Regions from separate parts of the Homo sapiens genome. Here regions 1, 3, 4 and 5 are each reported to be linked to region 2. Evidence: microRNA targets listed by miRTarBase, many of them from high-throughput screens and not tested one by one. Region 2 holds a microRNA gene; each other region holds the end of a gene's coding sequence.
What was found. The annotated mature microRNA hsa-miR-6513-5p reads UUUGGGAUUGACGCCACAUGUCU and lies in region 2 at 1,083-1,105, opposite strand. An mRNA with a match to its seed (bases 2 to 7 or 8) in the 3' UTR can be bound and repressed. Matches are read on the target gene's strand: a 7mer-m8 pairs with bases 2 to 8, a 7mer-A1 pairs with bases 2 to 7 and ends in A, and an 8mer does both.

Region 1: miRTarBase lists ITGA3 as a target of hsa-miR-6513-5p. The part of its 3' UTR that is shown has no 7-base or 8-base seed match.
Region 3: the mRNA of CDC73 is a reported target of hsa-miR-6513-5p. The part of its 3' UTR that is shown has no 7-base or 8-base seed match.
Region 4: the mRNA of PRICKLE1 is a reported target of hsa-miR-6513-5p. The part of its 3' UTR that is shown has no 7-base or 8-base seed match.
Region 5: miRTarBase lists NUP43 as a target of hsa-miR-6513-5p. Seed matches in the 3' UTR shown: 7mer-A1 at 406-412, 7mer-A1 at 1,042-1,048, 7mer-A1 at 1,856-1,862 and 7mer-A1 at 1,992-1,998.

The regions. Positions count from the first base shown.
Region 1 is chr17:50,088,037-50,091,036 of GRCh38, forward strand. ITGA3 (integrin subunit alpha 3) reads left to right here. Exons shown (of 26, transcript NM_002204.4): 25 at 189-330; 26 at 1,074-2,445. The coding sequence ends at 299. Among named protein-coding and RNA genes, the nearest start is that of PDK2, 5.8 kb to the right of the region's middle.
Region 2 is chr2:218,279,082-218,282,230 of GRCh38, forward strand. MIR6513 (microRNA 6513) reads right to left here and starts at 1,107; the gene lies at 1,044-1,107. All of the region lies in intron 2 of PNKD (PNKD metallo-beta-lactamase domain containing), which reads left to right. TMBIM1 (transmembrane BAX inhibitor motif containing 1) reads right to left here. Exons shown (of 12, transcript NM_022152.6): 2 at 2,859-3,100; 3 at 945-1,045; 4 at 208-272; 5 at 1-10. The coding sequence starts at 3,060.
Region 3 is chr1:193,250,391-193,253,390 of GRCh38, reverse strand. CDC73 (cell division cycle 73) reads right to left here. Exons shown (of 17, transcript NM_024529.5): 17 at 1-2,715. The coding sequence ends at 2,679. Among named protein-coding and RNA genes, the nearest start is that of LINC01031, 53 kb to the left of the region's middle.
Region 4 is chr12:42,457,128-42,460,127 of GRCh38, reverse strand. PRICKLE1 (prickle planar cell polarity protein 1) reads left to right here. Exons shown (of 8, transcript NM_153026.3): 8 at 1-3,000. The coding sequence ends at 319. Among named protein-coding and RNA genes, the nearest start is that of PRICKLE1, 130 kb to the left of the region's middle.
Region 5 is chr6:149,724,211-149,727,210 of GRCh38, reverse strand. NUP43 (nucleoporin 43) reads left to right here. Exons shown (of 8, transcript NM_198887.3): 8 at 13-2,896. The coding sequence ends at 242. Among named protein-coding and RNA genes, the nearest start is that of LATS1, 7.6 kb to the right of the region's middle. RefSeq lists a silencer at 2,482-2,684.

The DNA.
Region 1 (3,000 bases), not on the chromosome of region 2:
GGTTAGTGGGGGGAGCTGCAAGCTGGAAAGGGGGACCCAGGAGCTCTGGCTTCTGACCACACCACCAAGCTGGGACTGAGCCCCAGCCCCCAGGCTCCCCAGCCCTAAAGCCCTGGTCCACGAGTGCTGCTGGTGAGGATAGCCCAGCGCCCCCCTGATGGCCCGTCCCCACCTCCTCCCCTCCGCAGTGCGGCTTCTTCAAGCGAGCCCGCACTCGCGCCCTGTATGAAGCTAAGAGGCAGAAGGCGGAGATGAAGAGCCAGCCGTCAGAGACAGAGAGGCTGACCGACGACTACTGAGGGGGCAGCCCCCCGCCCCCGGCCCACCTGGGTAACACGGCCTCCGGGCCCCCTTCCCCGAGCCCCACAGCTGGCCGGGCCTCTGACTCTGTCCTATCTGCTCCTCTTCCCTTATGGGCCTGCTCTGACCTCATTCTGTCCCCACCACCACCCCAAAGATCAGGTCACTCTGACTGTCCCTCCAGCCCCCTGGGTGTCTGGCTTTCATCAGCCTCCCCCTAAGCCCCTTGGTGACTTGGGACCCCATGAGGGAGGCATAAATCCTCTCTGTGATGACCTTGCTTTCTGGGGATTGGAACAAGGTCAAGGGCAAGGCCAGGCCCCATCTCTGTAAACCACAGCCATGTCCAGAATAATTCTACACTCCCATTTCCACCCCTAGGGAAGGAGGGGAGCAGTAGAGACCCTCCTCCTGGGAACTAGCCTGTTTCCTCCTGAGCAACCCTTCCAGGATAACAAATGGACCCATTCCCAACATTGTGGTCAGGGTAGACTGCCCAGTCTTCCTGGCCATTCCATCCACTGTCTCTGCAGCTGCCCTCGGTCTCCATCTGCCTCTTCCTCTGCTCTCTGCCTTCCTCAACTCCTTCTTCCTCTGGGGCCTGGGGTGGAGAAACTCATCCTCCGTATCTCAGTGCAGAGAGATGGGATGCGTTTCGGTCAAGAGTTCTGGCTTTGAGGAGTTCTGGGTGGGAGAGGGAGAGGCCTGGCACTCCTTCCTGGTGGCTCAAACTCTGGATGCTAATGTTCTTTCTCTTCTCCCTCCAACTCCAGTGTGACTTCTTTAAGCGGACCCGCTATTATCAGATCATGCCCAAGTACCACGCAGTGCGGATCCGGGAGGAGGAGCGCTACCCACCTCCAGGGAGCACCCTGCCCACCAAGAAGCACTGGGTGACCAGCTGGCAGACTCGGGACCAATACTACTGACGTCCTCCCTGATCCCACCCCCTCCTCCCCCAGTGTCCCCTTTCTTCCTATTTATCATAAGTTATGCCTCTGACAGTCCACAGGGGCCACCACCTTTGGCTGGTAGCAGCAGGCTCAGGCACATACACCTCGTCAAGAGCATGCACATGCTGTCTGGCCCTGGGGATCTTCCCACAGGAGGGCCAGCGCTGTGGACCTTACAACGCCGAGTGCACTGCATTCCTGTGCCCTAGATGCACGTGGGGCCCACTGCTCGTGGACTGTGCTGGTGCATCACGGATGGTGCATGGGCTCGCCGTGTCTCAGCCTCTGCCAGCGCCAAAACAAGCCAAAGAGCCTCCCACCAGAGCCGGGAGGAAAAGGCCCCTGCAATGTGGTGACACCTCCCCCTTTCACACTGGATCCATCTTGAGCCACAGTCACTGGATTGACTTTGCTGTCAAAACTACTGACAGGGAGCAGCCCCCGGGCCGCTGGCTGGTGGGCCCCCAATGACACCCATGCCAGAGAGGTGGGGATCCTGCCTAAGGTTGTCTACGGGGGCACTTGGAGGACCTGGCGTGCTCAGACCCAACAGCAAAGGAACTAGAAAGAAGGACCCAGAACGGCTTGCTTTCCTGCATCTCTGTGAAGCCTCTCTCCTTGGCCACAGACTGAACTCGCAGGGAATGCAGCAGGAAGGAACAAAGACAGGCAAACGGCAACGTAGCCTGGGCTCACTGTGCTGGGGCACGGCGGGATCCTCCACAGAGAGGAGGGGACCAATTCTGGACAGACAGATGTTGGGAGGATACAGAGGAGATGCCACTTCTCACTCACCACTACCAGCCAGCCTCAGAAGGCCCCAGAGAGACCCTGCAAGACCACGGAGGGAGCGACACTTGAATGTAGAATAGGCAGGGGGCCCTGCCCCACCCCATCCAGCCAGACCCCACGCTGACCATGCGTCAGGGGCCTAGAGGTGGAGTTCTTAGCTATCCTTGGCTTTCAGAGCCAGCCTGGCTCTGCCCCCTCCCCCATGGGCTGTGTCCTAAGGCCCATTTGAGAAGCTGAGGCTAGTTCCAGAAAACCTCTCCTGACCCCTGCCTGTTGGCAGGCCCACTCCCCAGCCCCAGCCCCTTCCATGGTACTGTAGCAGGGGAATTCCCTCCCCCTCCTTGTGCCTTCTTTGTATATAGGCTTCTCACGGCGACCAATAAACAGCTCCCAGTTTGTATGCAGCTGCATCTGCTTCCACCCACTCCCCAGCCTTTACCAACCCCAGGTCAATGGATGATGATATCATCCAGCCAACACCTAGGTAGGATGAAGCCAGGTCTGGGGACTTGCGGGTTTGAGGGTAAAGATTGATGGAGGTGGCCAGGTGCAGTGGCTCACACCTGTAATCCCAGCACTTTGGGAGGCCAAGGCATGCAGATCACCTGAGGTCAGGAGTTCAAGACCAGCCTGGCCAACATGGTGAAACCCTGTGTCTACTAAAAATACAAAAGTTAGCTGGGCGCAGTGGCGCATGCCTATAATCCCAGCTACTTGGGAGGCTGAAGTAGGAGAATCACTTGAACCCAGGAGGCAGAGGTTGCAGTGAGCCGAGATCGTGCCATTGCACTCCAGCCTGAACGACAGAGCAAGACTCTGTCTCAAAGAAAAATAAAAAGATTGATGGAGGTGACACTGGCCCCTGCTCTCAGGAATCCTCTCATCTAAGGGTCAGTCATAGAGATCCAGAACAGAAGATGAGGGGTAAGCCTTGGGAGACCTGGATGAAACCCAG
Region 2 (3,149 bases):
GACAGGTTCCCTGTGGGGCACAGGAGGACAGGAGTAGTCACCCTGAGGCTTGTCTGCCCCACCCAGGCCAGCCAGGCAGCCCTGGCTTCACCTTCTCTAATTGCCCATGGTCACCCTGAGAGCAGGGCCCACCGCCACCCACACCCCCAGCAGGTGACCCTGAACCCCCAGGGCAGTAGGAGTGGGTGGCAAAGCCTAGAGACTTACACAAAGGTGAAGATAGCAATGATGGCCACAGTGATGAGCAGCTGCACGGAGATGATGGAGTAAACCTGGACACAGACGGCCGGGCATGGGTCACCATCCGGCACCCCTGGCCTGCCCCAGGAAGCTGCCAGCCCCCAGTACTTTCCTCCCACTCAAGAACCCTCCCTAGCTGCAGCCTGGCCCAGAGGCGACCCCAGTGAGATGCCTGGCTCAGAGGCAATGTGCACTTCTTCCTCAGCCCCGCTCCCATGCTCCCTGCCATCTCCCCTCCTGTCCAACACCAGCCTCGGTGACTACTGACTTGCCCTGCCTGGCCACCATACTCTACCAGTATGGCCTCTGCACTCCCAGCAGCTCAGTCTGCACGCTCTATGCAGCTGTGAGATGGAGAGGGTGGGTTACAAGCGAGTAGGATCATTTCTGGCTCCAAGCTGCCTATAGTCTAAAGGGAGAAAGATGTCTGGGGAAGGCGGGCGCTGTGGCAGAACCCACCTAGGAGATTCTCCCAGACTGAATGTGTCCTCCCAAAACATGGTCAAGAAGAGAGGTGCAAAAAGAGAGGGAACCCTGGGGTTAGAGAAGCCAGGTGCCCCTCTGAGAAGCAGACAAGGCTAGAGAAGACAGGCAGCCAGTGTATTTCATGGAATTGATGCCCTGGGGCTACTGTGGCCTACCCACTTCCCATTCCCACAGCCTGAGGGGCCCCAGGTACACCCACCTCCCAGCGCGTATCTTACCTTTCGGATAAAAGTGTGTCGCACTTTCCGGTCATCCCACTCTCCAGGCCCGAAGCTATCACTCACTGCTCTCTCCTCCCCATCATAGCCATGGCCTGGGCCTAGGGACAGATGACACTTGACTCAGCTGGGGACCTGAGACATGTGGCGTCAATCCCAAAGCCTCCCTGACAATCTCAAAGTCTCAGGGATCTCCAGCCAAAAGACAAGTGTTATAACAGGAACTCTTCTCCCAAGCTGGGGTCTTCTAGACACCCTCAGAGTGACCCAGAGCCGGCCTGTCACGAGGGGGCTTAGGTGGGAAACGTTCCTCACGTGCATCTGTGGAGGGCTCCTGTGTGCCCAGCCCACGCCACTGGGGGTTCACTGGGGGGTCACGATGTAGTGGGGAAGCCAGGCAGGAGCAGGTATGGGCATCCACTGGGGCAGCCAGCCAGGGCAGAACAGGGGATGGGGACAGAGGGTAGGAGAAAAGGAGGGCGGCAGAGCGCAGTTTGTGCAGCAGCAGGGATAGAGGTGAAGACAGGGATCTGCATCAGCCTCACAGAGGCAGGTGTGCAAAGGGTGTGCGTGACTGTGCAGGACCCATGCGCAGATCCGCACCAGCGCACATGTCCAGGTGAGAGCTGGCTGACACCCCTCTGGGGTTCAGAGATGCTGCAGGGCTGCAAACATTCCCTGAATGCCTGAATGCCTGAATGCCTCTTTGGGAACTACTTTTAAAATCCACGCTTGAGCCACCCAGGAAGACTCACTGCACTCTAACTTCACCTCATTTCCTTTTTTTTTTTTTTTTTTTTTTTGAGATGGAGTTTCGGTCTTGTTGCCCAAGCTGGAGTGCAAAGGCGTGATCTCGGCTCACCGCAACCTCCACCTCCCGGGTTCAAGCAATTCTCCTGCCTTAGCCTCCTGAGTAGCTGGGATTACAGACGCATGCCACCACGCCCGGCTCATTTTTTGTATTTTTGGTAGAGACAGGGTTTCACCATGTTGGCCAGGCTGGTCTCAAACTCGTGATCCGCCCATCTCAGCCTCCCAAAGTGTTGAGATTACAGGCATGAGCCACCGTACCCGGCCTCTTTTTTTGTTTTGTTTTGTTTTTTGTTTTTTTTTTGGTTTTTTTTTTGAGACAGAGTCTTGCTCTGTTGCTCAGGCTGAAGTGCAGTAGTGCGATCCTGGCTCACTGCAACCTCCACCTCCTGGGATTGCAAGCGATTCTCCTGCCTCAGCCTCCTGAGTAGCTGGGATTACAGGTGCACGCCACCACACCCGGCTAAGTTTTTGTATTTTTAGTGGAGATGGGGTTTTGCCATGTTGGCCAGGCTGGTCTCGAATTCCTGACCTCAGGTGATCTGCTCGCCTCAGCCTCCCAGAGTGCTGGGATTACAGGCGTGAGCCACCGCGGCCGGCCTCACCTCATTTCTGACCAAACACAAGCATGTCCCTGCCATGATGTTTACCAAACTTGGCTCCAAATGTCTTTTGCAAAAGTCAGATTTCACTTTAAAGGATGAGGAAAGTGGTTCAGGTTCCCAAAGGAGTTCCTAAGGAAGTCGACAGGTCTGGGAGGTGGCAGCAGCTTGTTGGCCGCTTGTTGGGAAACAGAGCTGGTGCCCTGAGGTAACCCCTCAGGAGTCATTACTTGGCCCAGCCCCATTCTCCTGTGGTGTGTACGTTCTGGGACATGCCTCATGGATCTCCTTGAACAAAGGGGGCAGCAAGTGGCTGGGGGCCAGTTGCTGAGGCAAAAAGTGGAGGGTAACAAAGACAGAAACAGAGGGAGAGATCTCAACAGAGAAGATGAGAAAGGGATTTAAGGGAAACTAGAAGAGAAAAGGGGCAGGAGGCGGTGGCCTCATCTGCTCCAAGTGCTGTCCCTCCCACCCACCTTCCATCTGCCCTTCCAGGACTCACCGTAGTTCATGGGCATCGGGTGGGTGGGGGGCATGGGCTGTGGGTAGCCAGCAGGGTGACCGTAGCCAGGCTGCGGGTAGCCAGGGTAGGCAGGATACCCTCCTGGCAGGACAGATGGCTGCCCATAGCCCCCAGGGGGCGGAGGGCCTGGGTACAGGGGGTTGCGGTCTTCATATGGTGGTGGGGCGCTGGGGTTGGACATGGCTGCTCACGGGCTGAGGGGGAACCCCAGCTGCTGGGACCTGAAATGGGAGAGGAGAAAAGCAATCGTGAATGCCCAGGCCCAGCTCA
Region 3 (3,000 bases), not on the chromosome of region 2:
ACATACAGAAAAGAAGGAAGAGGAAACACATTTAATACTGGTACTGTTTTCAATAACAAATTAAACCAGTGATTCTGAATCCTTCCTGCACATTCAAATTACCTGGAGAACTTTAAAAAAAATACTGATGACCAGGTCTTGTCTCAAATTACATGAAAATGGGAATCAAGATTCAGGCATGGATATTTTTAAAAACTCTCCAAATGATTCTAAAATGCAGTCAGGGTTGAGAGCAACTGATTGAAACCTACATATTTCTTACTGTTCCTTGACTGAGAAGAATGTCCTATAAATATAGAAATAGAACTTTTTCCTTTACAGGTTGGGCATACAAGGGTATCTCCAGTTAGCAGTAACTTATGGAGGGGTAAGTCAAGTTATTAATTTATACTTCATTTCCATTAAAATATCTACTTATACCTCTCTTCATTCCCTGTAATTCTGTACTCTCAAACTCCAAGACCAAGAAGAGTCGAACTACACTTTTATAATAAATTTGTTACACTGAAAATACATTATTCATTCATGCATGTAAGTATTTACTGAATGCCTACTATGTGCAAGGCACTGTGTTAAGTACTGCTATATAGGACCATGTCATGGGAGAATAAATGGGAGTGGCTGAAAATTTTTGTTTTTTAGAATAAACAGCTAAAAAATAATGGAATGAAATTAATTACATGGACCTAAATAAGAGACTAAATTGTCAAAGAGGAAAAGAAAAAGAGGTGCTTATACTAAGGGTCTGATTTTAAGATAGATGGTTATAGCCTATTTGTCCTTTTCCTAATGTTCCTTTACAGTATTTCCATAAGCCTTTGAATATACATAAGGCAAATTCAAAATAGAAAAATAAACCTCATTCAAAGTAGATGTTCCTAATTTTAACCATATTCTGTCTCAAGTAAAGTTCATAAATAAGTACAAATACCAAAAATCTTTATGGGAAGGTAGTTCATACTGACTTGTAGTAGTCTTGACAAGTAATCTTACATAAAAATATTACAGATTCTGGTCCTTGACTATTTCATCATGGAGAAAGTTTACACAACATGTAATTTATTTTGGAAATATATTTATATGCTAAGAAAGCCTAATGTAAACAAATTTGAGTTTTCTTTTATCTTTAAGGAAAGAAGACGCTAAAAAGGGAGGAAAATAGGGGTAGAATCTGTTCAAACCTTGTTAAGTATGCTAAAATCTAGTAATTTAAAATGCTGACTGTTCCCTTCTGAAGAGCCTTGTAAATATCATGTGAATAAATATCTTTTCTAGTTACTAGTGGTATGAACTATGTGATCACTTAAAAAATAATAACTTCTCATTTTTGTGACAGTGTTAAATTTCATTAAGAAGCTAGATAATGTCAGCTTAATACCTATGAAAGGCCTAAACGTTCACCAAAAATATGTTAACCTAGGAGAAAATTGCTGGGAATAAAAACAGAGAAAAAAATGACATAAGACTGTGATCAGCAAAAATTCCAATGGCAAAAACACTTTAGGAAAGTAAAGCTTCCTAGTTGCCTTTAAGGAAAAAAAAAAAACAAAGTGAAATCAAGGTTCAAGGCAAATGGTCACTTGATGTACCTTGGATGCAACATTTTGTCTGAAGTAGAGAAATAGTAAAATATTTCACTAAGTTAAAATATAGTTTTTATATTTTATACCATATTGAATACAGACATAAAAATACCAGTGTTTTTCTCTTGTTTCTTTTCAGACAATTAAGCAAATGTTTTCTTTGGTGCCTGGGAGTTTATCAATATTTAGGGATAATGGAAGATAAGAACTCCAAGACTGACAAGCCTAAAATAGAAGATTCAAAATCCTATACCATAAAAATTACAATCAAAAGTGGACTAAAGAGAAAAGGAGCTTAAAGTTATACTGCAATAGGGCTGATACATATTCTTCCCCCAAATCATACTCTGGCTCCCAAAATAAAAAATACTACAGCCTATTGTGGTTTTAATCTGTGTTTTGAGATTTTTTTCAAATGGAAAGATATTACAGATAGAAACACATCATTCTAGGTTTCAAAATCACCAAAGTCAGTGAGAAGAATGTACATTCATTTAAATGTAATCATTTGTAAATAAAGAAATCTTGAAAAGGCTGAACAGTTCAATCAAATTGAAGAATTGATCTAGATTTTTCATTATTCTTTTTAAATAATGAGTAAGTGTAGATATAGTGTACATACAAGTTGACATTCTGATTCATTCAAAATAGTCACATCCCTTTGCTTGGTTTTGGATGTTCCAGAGACTAAAATTTAATACCATTCATAACATAGTATTTTCAGTAAAAAGAATTATAGAGCAATGAAAAATCAGAAGATGGCTCAGAGAGCCTTATAATCTCTAAATATACACACATTTATAACCTGCATTTATTTTCTAAAGAAACAAATTTTAAGTAATGCTAATTTAACCAATGGAGAAAAAACTTCTATCAAAATATACAATTTCCATTACAGACTAGAAGGCTAATATTAAAAAAATAGTTGTAAGCCAAAAAGTTTGCTTATATGGATGACAGGTATCATCTCCTTGAAGCACAAAGCATCAAATAAGGTCTTATAAAAGATCAATCTGTGACCTTCTTCATTTTTAAGTTCTTGATAAATTCATAAAGCTTGAGTCTCAATTTCCAGAAATGGAGGAGCCAAATAATTCAGAATCTCAAGTGCGATTTATGCTTTACCATGTACCTGAAAAAAATATTATGGTAGGTTATAATGACTATAGGAATTTTAGAATTTTTAGAATAATGCATGTAAAAACAAGTTGACATTTCTTAAAACTTAAAATCAACAGAATAAAATGCTGTTTTCTAGAAAACTGGAAATATAAAGACTCTGGAATAAGCTAGAAATAACACTCCTCTTATTAAGTAATATAATCTAAGAGCTTCTAGCTAAAATAATATATGTTTCACAGATATGAGAGACTTGCACCAAAAATGTTACAGATTTTAAGGAGCATACCTCAAAGAG
Region 4 (3,000 bases), not on the chromosome of region 2:
GAATGCTGATCTCTACGGACAGTACGCCCATGCCACTTCCGATTATGGCCTGCAGAACCCAGGAATGAATCGGTTTCTGGGACTCTACGGCGAGGATGATGATTCCTGGTGTTCTTCCTCCTCCTCCTCTTCCGACTCGGAAGAAGAAGGATATTTTCTTGGACAACCAATCCCTCAACCCCGGCCACAGAGATTTGCCTACTATACAGATGACCTTTCTAGTCCACCATCTGCACTTCCCACCCCTCAGTTTGGTCAGAGGACAACAAAATCCAAGAAGAAAAAGGGACACAAGGGCAAAAATTGTATTATTTCTTAACCAAGTAGTGATGCAGAGCATTTGTTTAAAACTTAGCCATTAACCGTCTGAATCGTTTCCTTTTCTTCCGTAGGAAAGTTGTGAAAATAGTTTAAAGTGCTTTCTTTGCCCATGTAAATGAGAACTCAACTGCTGTTTACAGTGTCAGATTAACATTTGAAAGGTGTGATTTCTCCAATTTACCCTCTTTGGATGGTGCCAGGTGGACGTGACATCTCGTGCCTGTCCGGTGCGGGTGCGTTACAGATGGACGTAGCTGCTTTGGTTTTCCAGTCCTCAAGGGAATACTGAAGATGCTGACTGAAGGGGATTGGATGTTGATTTTAGAAGATGGAGAACTCCAGCCACCTTTGTAAAGCACTAGTGTTTGTCATTTATGTAAGTCAGGTCGGCTCAGGTCTTGATAGTCCGTCTTGGTGTGAGGCATGCCTGTCACGATGACCTAGCTAACACTGTGCATCTTATTGTGAGGCCAGCTTGTCCCCTCGAACCCTCTTTGGCCAGGTAAACATTGTATTGTATCAGCGCCAGCTACAGATTGAAAAAAAAAAACAAAAAACATTGCTATTTATAACTTAGTATTTCATAGACTTAAGTGTATTCCTAATTTAACGGTGCAAATATTAATGTATATACTGTACAGTTCAGATTTTAAAGCTGATATTTTTATATCCCTGAATTGTAAGCCGTTTGTTACGCTGCAGTGCTAGATTTGCCAGGGAACCAGAATTTATGGATGAACTGATTGCTTATATTTTAGTCAGGGTTTATAAATGTAGATGGTCAAATTTACATTGCCTAGTGATGGAAAATTCAACTTTTTTTGATTTTTTTTTCCAATATTAAAAAAGGCTCTGTATGCATGGTGGGGCTATGTAAGTACTCTTTAAAACTATGGCCCTATTAATCTTACAAGTGTTACTTATGGGTCAAGCAATGTAAACTGTATAAATGTAAAAACAACCCCTCCACACACATAACCCCTGGAATATATGGTAAAAACAAGTAGAAGCTGTTTCAGCGAGTGGGTTTTTTCCCCCTGCCTGCGGGGGGTGCCTTTCTCATTTTCAGCAAGGTGATGATTATCTCATGGGAAATGACAAAGATCTGCTTTTGTGGCAGAGGACTTTGTAGATTTGTTATTTTAAGAGAGGTTATTCCTTTTTATTCCTTCCCTCCCACTAATTTGTTGGCCTTTAACAGCAATTTTGAAAACTGGGTCTTCTGGTTATGTTTTTGTTTTAAAATCTTTAAATTAGAGGATGCTGTGCCATTGAGTACTGTAAGTTAATATGAGGTTCTGGTTCAAGGAAAACTTACGTTGGATCTGAACCAATGAGCAGATATTTTGATATGTGCCACTCTTGCATATACATCTCAGTCCTAACTAAAGGTTCTAGTGGCATCCAGGACCTTTAGGGAGGCATTTAATAAACACTTAATAAATAACAAAACTACCTTTCTGAATATAAATCTTTGCAAATGTATCCAGATAACTTCCATTTTGTGCCTGTGTTCAGGCATGATTTATTTTGCAGTTGCCCTACCATTAACAGACCTCCATTTGTCTCGTGTGTCCACACGCCCCACTTGTAGGCCAGAAATAGGGCTTCAGACACAGAGGCTTATTTTTTCCATATAGACTGGAGTGGGGAAAATTTGGCCTTAGGGAGGACAGACACAAGTCCAATGGGTAAACCAGCGAGTAGTAGGTGGACAGCCGTCCCACACAAGGGTTTGTATCTGGGCTACACAGATTCCCTTCAGAAAAGCACCAATGGTGAGAGAGTTCTTCACTCAGTAACTTACATTCCCTGGTCTGGTGCCTTTAAAAAACCATCAGCAATGAAAAGGAAGTGCATACACATGACAAAAAAATTCAAATAGGGCAAAAGTCAGAGACAGCATCTCCTTTCCATTCTTCATCCCAGTCCCCCAGGTCCTCTCCCCAGAAGTAACCACTCTTACCCAGTTTTAGTGTCTCCTTCAGACATTCAAAGCACATTCGTATAAATGTGTCTTTTAAAAGTGGTAGTGACCTATATGTGCTGTGACATGCTTTTTTCCCTTTGTATGTGGACATTTCACGTTAGTGCATATAGGTCTACCCATTCTTTCAGTGACTGCTTAATAGCCTACTCCTAATGATGGAGTTGACTTTCCTCATACATTATGCTACACTGGCACATGTGCACATAAATCGGGAGCAGCGTAGTTACTGGGACAAAGGTTACGTATTTAAGACTGATGGATATTGCCAATTTTCCTCCAAAAGAAATTCTCCTGATTTACATTAATGTAATGTAAATGAGAGTGTTTGTTCCATCACAACCTCTCAATGTATTAGCAGATTTCTTGATTTTGAAGAAATTTTCAGAACCTGTGCTGCCACAAGTGGGCATCCTTTTAGAAAAGACTGTTGCAATATGTTGCTTATAAAGGATGGATAATAAATAGTAAACAGGTGATACTTAGCCTGAAGAAATGCAGGTATAAGGTGAAGGTACTGCCCTCACTTTTCAAGTACATTCTCAAAAGATAGGGGTAACATAGCCTGCCAAAGGCTTAAGGAAATGCAGATATTTATTCACAATAATAATGTGACTTTCTTTTCCTTTTTTTTTTTTTTTTGAGATGGAGTTTCGCTCCTGTTGCCCAGGCTGGAGCGCAACGGCACAATC
Region 5 (3,000 bases), not on the chromosome of region 2:
TTTTTCTCCCAGGAGGAAGAAGCAGTACTTTTTTGTCTCATAGCATTAGTAACCAAGCTAATGTTCACCAGTCTGTCATTAGCTCCTGGCTCAGCACTGATCCTGCAAAAGACCGAATTGAAATCACAAGCTTACTTCCCAGTAGGTCTCTGTCTGTGAACACTTTGGATGTTTTAGGTCCTTGTCTTGTTTGTGGAACCGATGCAGAAGCAATTTATGTTACTAGACATCTTTTTTCGTAGAAGTACTATAATTATAAGATTTCAGATAGAACATGCAATTAGCCTTTTGAAATCCAACTTCTGTGCAAAATTTTAGTATCAGAAAATACGAGATTTGCAGGGGAAACATCAGTAAACTACCATTAATGTCAATGCCCAGTTTTGACTTTTGTTAGCCTGACACTCCCAAACAGTTGTAGAATCCGATAGATGACTGATGGCAAAAGATTGTGAACATGTGGAAGAAAATCAGTGGGATTCTGGTGCTGATGAATAGGTTGCCTTCAGAGTATTATTGACAGACAGCTTGTGGAACTAATTCTTTATTTTTGATGTTGTGGGAATTAACACATCAATGGTGGTTATGGGAACTACCAATGGGTTCCTACAATTTTTATCAGTAGTATGTGGCATATACACCTTCCTAGTGGCAGTTGCCAATGTTAATGATTATTCTTTTTATTGCAAGTATTTCCTATGATCCTTCCACACTTTATTTCCTTAATAATAATAAACTTTTTCAGAAAGAATTGAGTAGAGCAAAAATGACAAAGATGTGTAGCTGTGTTCAATTTTTTTTTTTTTTTTTTTTTGAGGCAGAGTCTTGCTCTGCTGGAGTGCGGTGGTGCAATCTCGGCTCACTGCAACCTCCACCTCCCAGGTTCAAGCAATTCTCCTGCCTCAGTCTCCTGAGTAGCTGGAACTACAGGTGTGCGCCACCACGCCCAGCTAATTTTTGTAATTTTAGTAGAGACAGAGTTTCACCATGTTGGCCAGGATGGTCTCGATCTCTTGACCTCATGATCCACCCGCCTCGACCTCCCAAAGTGCTGTGATTACAGGTGTGAGCCACTGCACCCGGCCTGAAATTTTTTTAAGGTGAAAATGTTTTGACAAGTTCCTTTTTCAGAATAGGTTTTTGAGCAGAACTCTTTCAGCTTGTTAGACCCAACTTTGCTTTTGTTTAGCTTCACAGCATAGCTGAAAGTTGCCAAACTGGACATTGTGCAATAAAGTAGAATTCTATATTGATAAGCAAACTATTTCCAAACTAAAAATGTGATAGATAAAAGTGTGATTAATCAAATGATATGATCAGAGTAAAGAATTTTGCCATTTTGATCCTTTTACTTTGTTTTAGCCACCTATAGTGTTACCAACCATCTTTATCCTTGTCTGCAGGGATAATAATGAACTAATGTAGTGTTTTAAGATAATTTAATGATACTATCTTTCCAAACTTTGTTAGATTTTAAATGTATTATTGACCTGAGACCTTAATGACAAATCACTGCTATTAGACAATTGAAGTGTTCATTTACTTTGTAATTCCAATAATCATAGTTATGGAATTATGGTAAGGTTTTGCTTTTCTGTCCTAATAAATATATATATTTTTTGAGATGGAGTTTTGCTCTTGTTGCTGAGGCTGGAGTGAAATGGCATGATCTCAGCTCACTGCAACCTCCGTCTCTTAGGTTCAAGCAATTCTCCTGCCTCAGCCTCCCGAGTAGCTGGGATTACAGGTGCTCACCACCACACCCAGCTAATTTTTGTATTTTTAGTAGAGATGGGGTTTCACTGTGTTGGCCAGGCTGGTCTTGAACTGACCTCATGATCCACCTGCCTCAGCCTCCCAAAATGCTGGGATTACAGGCTTGAGCCACTGCTCCCGGCTGATTTTTGTATTAGTAGAGACGACAGGGTTTCACCATGTTGGCCAGGGCTGGTCTCGAACTCCTGACCACAGGTAATCAGCCCGCCTCGGCCTCCCAAAGTGCTGGGATTACAGGCGTGAGCCACTTAGTATTTGTAACCATAAGAGAAAGTATATTTTAACAGCATTACATTTCATGCCAATTGACAAGTTTTGCCAATTTTAATAAGAAACTAAGCTTTATGTAATGTAACACCGTAATTTATGAATTTGTTCATTGTCACTGCCTTTATTCATGAAACTGTCAAATAGAGTGTCTTTCAAGGGTTGCAGGATCTTAGAGATAGAAAGTACCTTGGTGATCATCTCCAGCCTAAATTTCATCATCCCTTCTATGGTATTCCCAACAAATTATCATCCAACCTATACTTAAAAACATATGGTGGCCAGGCATGGTGGCTCACGCCTGTAATGCTAGCACTTTGGGAGGCCGAGGTGGGTGAAGCACCTGAGGTCAAGAGTTCGAGATCAGCCTGGCCAACATGGCGAAACCCCGTCTCCACTAAAAATGCAAAAAAAAAATTAACCGGGCGTGGTGGCAGGCATCTATAATCCCAGCTACTTGGGAGGCTGAGGCAGGAGAATTGCTCAAACCCGGGAGGCAGAGGTTGCAGTGACCCAAGATCGTGCCACTTCACTCCAGCCTGGGCAAAAGAGCAAAACGCCATCTCAAAAAATATACATATATAAGGAGATAAAGTTTCCCATTTTCCAATACAGTTTCACATTTGAACAGCCCTAATTGATACAACTTTATGGCAGGGTTTTAGTGTGTGAGTGGGATCCAAAACACTCAATCCTGTAAAAGGGTACAGTCCTATTGTATGTTAACACACTGATGATGTGAGCCTGTGAGATGAGCCAATCACCAGTTGTTATGTTCGAATCTGCTTTGTGTTGGGACGCTTTAATGTCAGGGTTTCACTAAATAAATGAATTTTCATATACTGAACTGAAATTTGCTTCTATCTGTCTTATCTCGGGAGCCACACACACAAAATTCCTCTCATCACATATTCAAATATTCAAAATTGATTATTATAGTCTCTCCAGTGAAGGTTT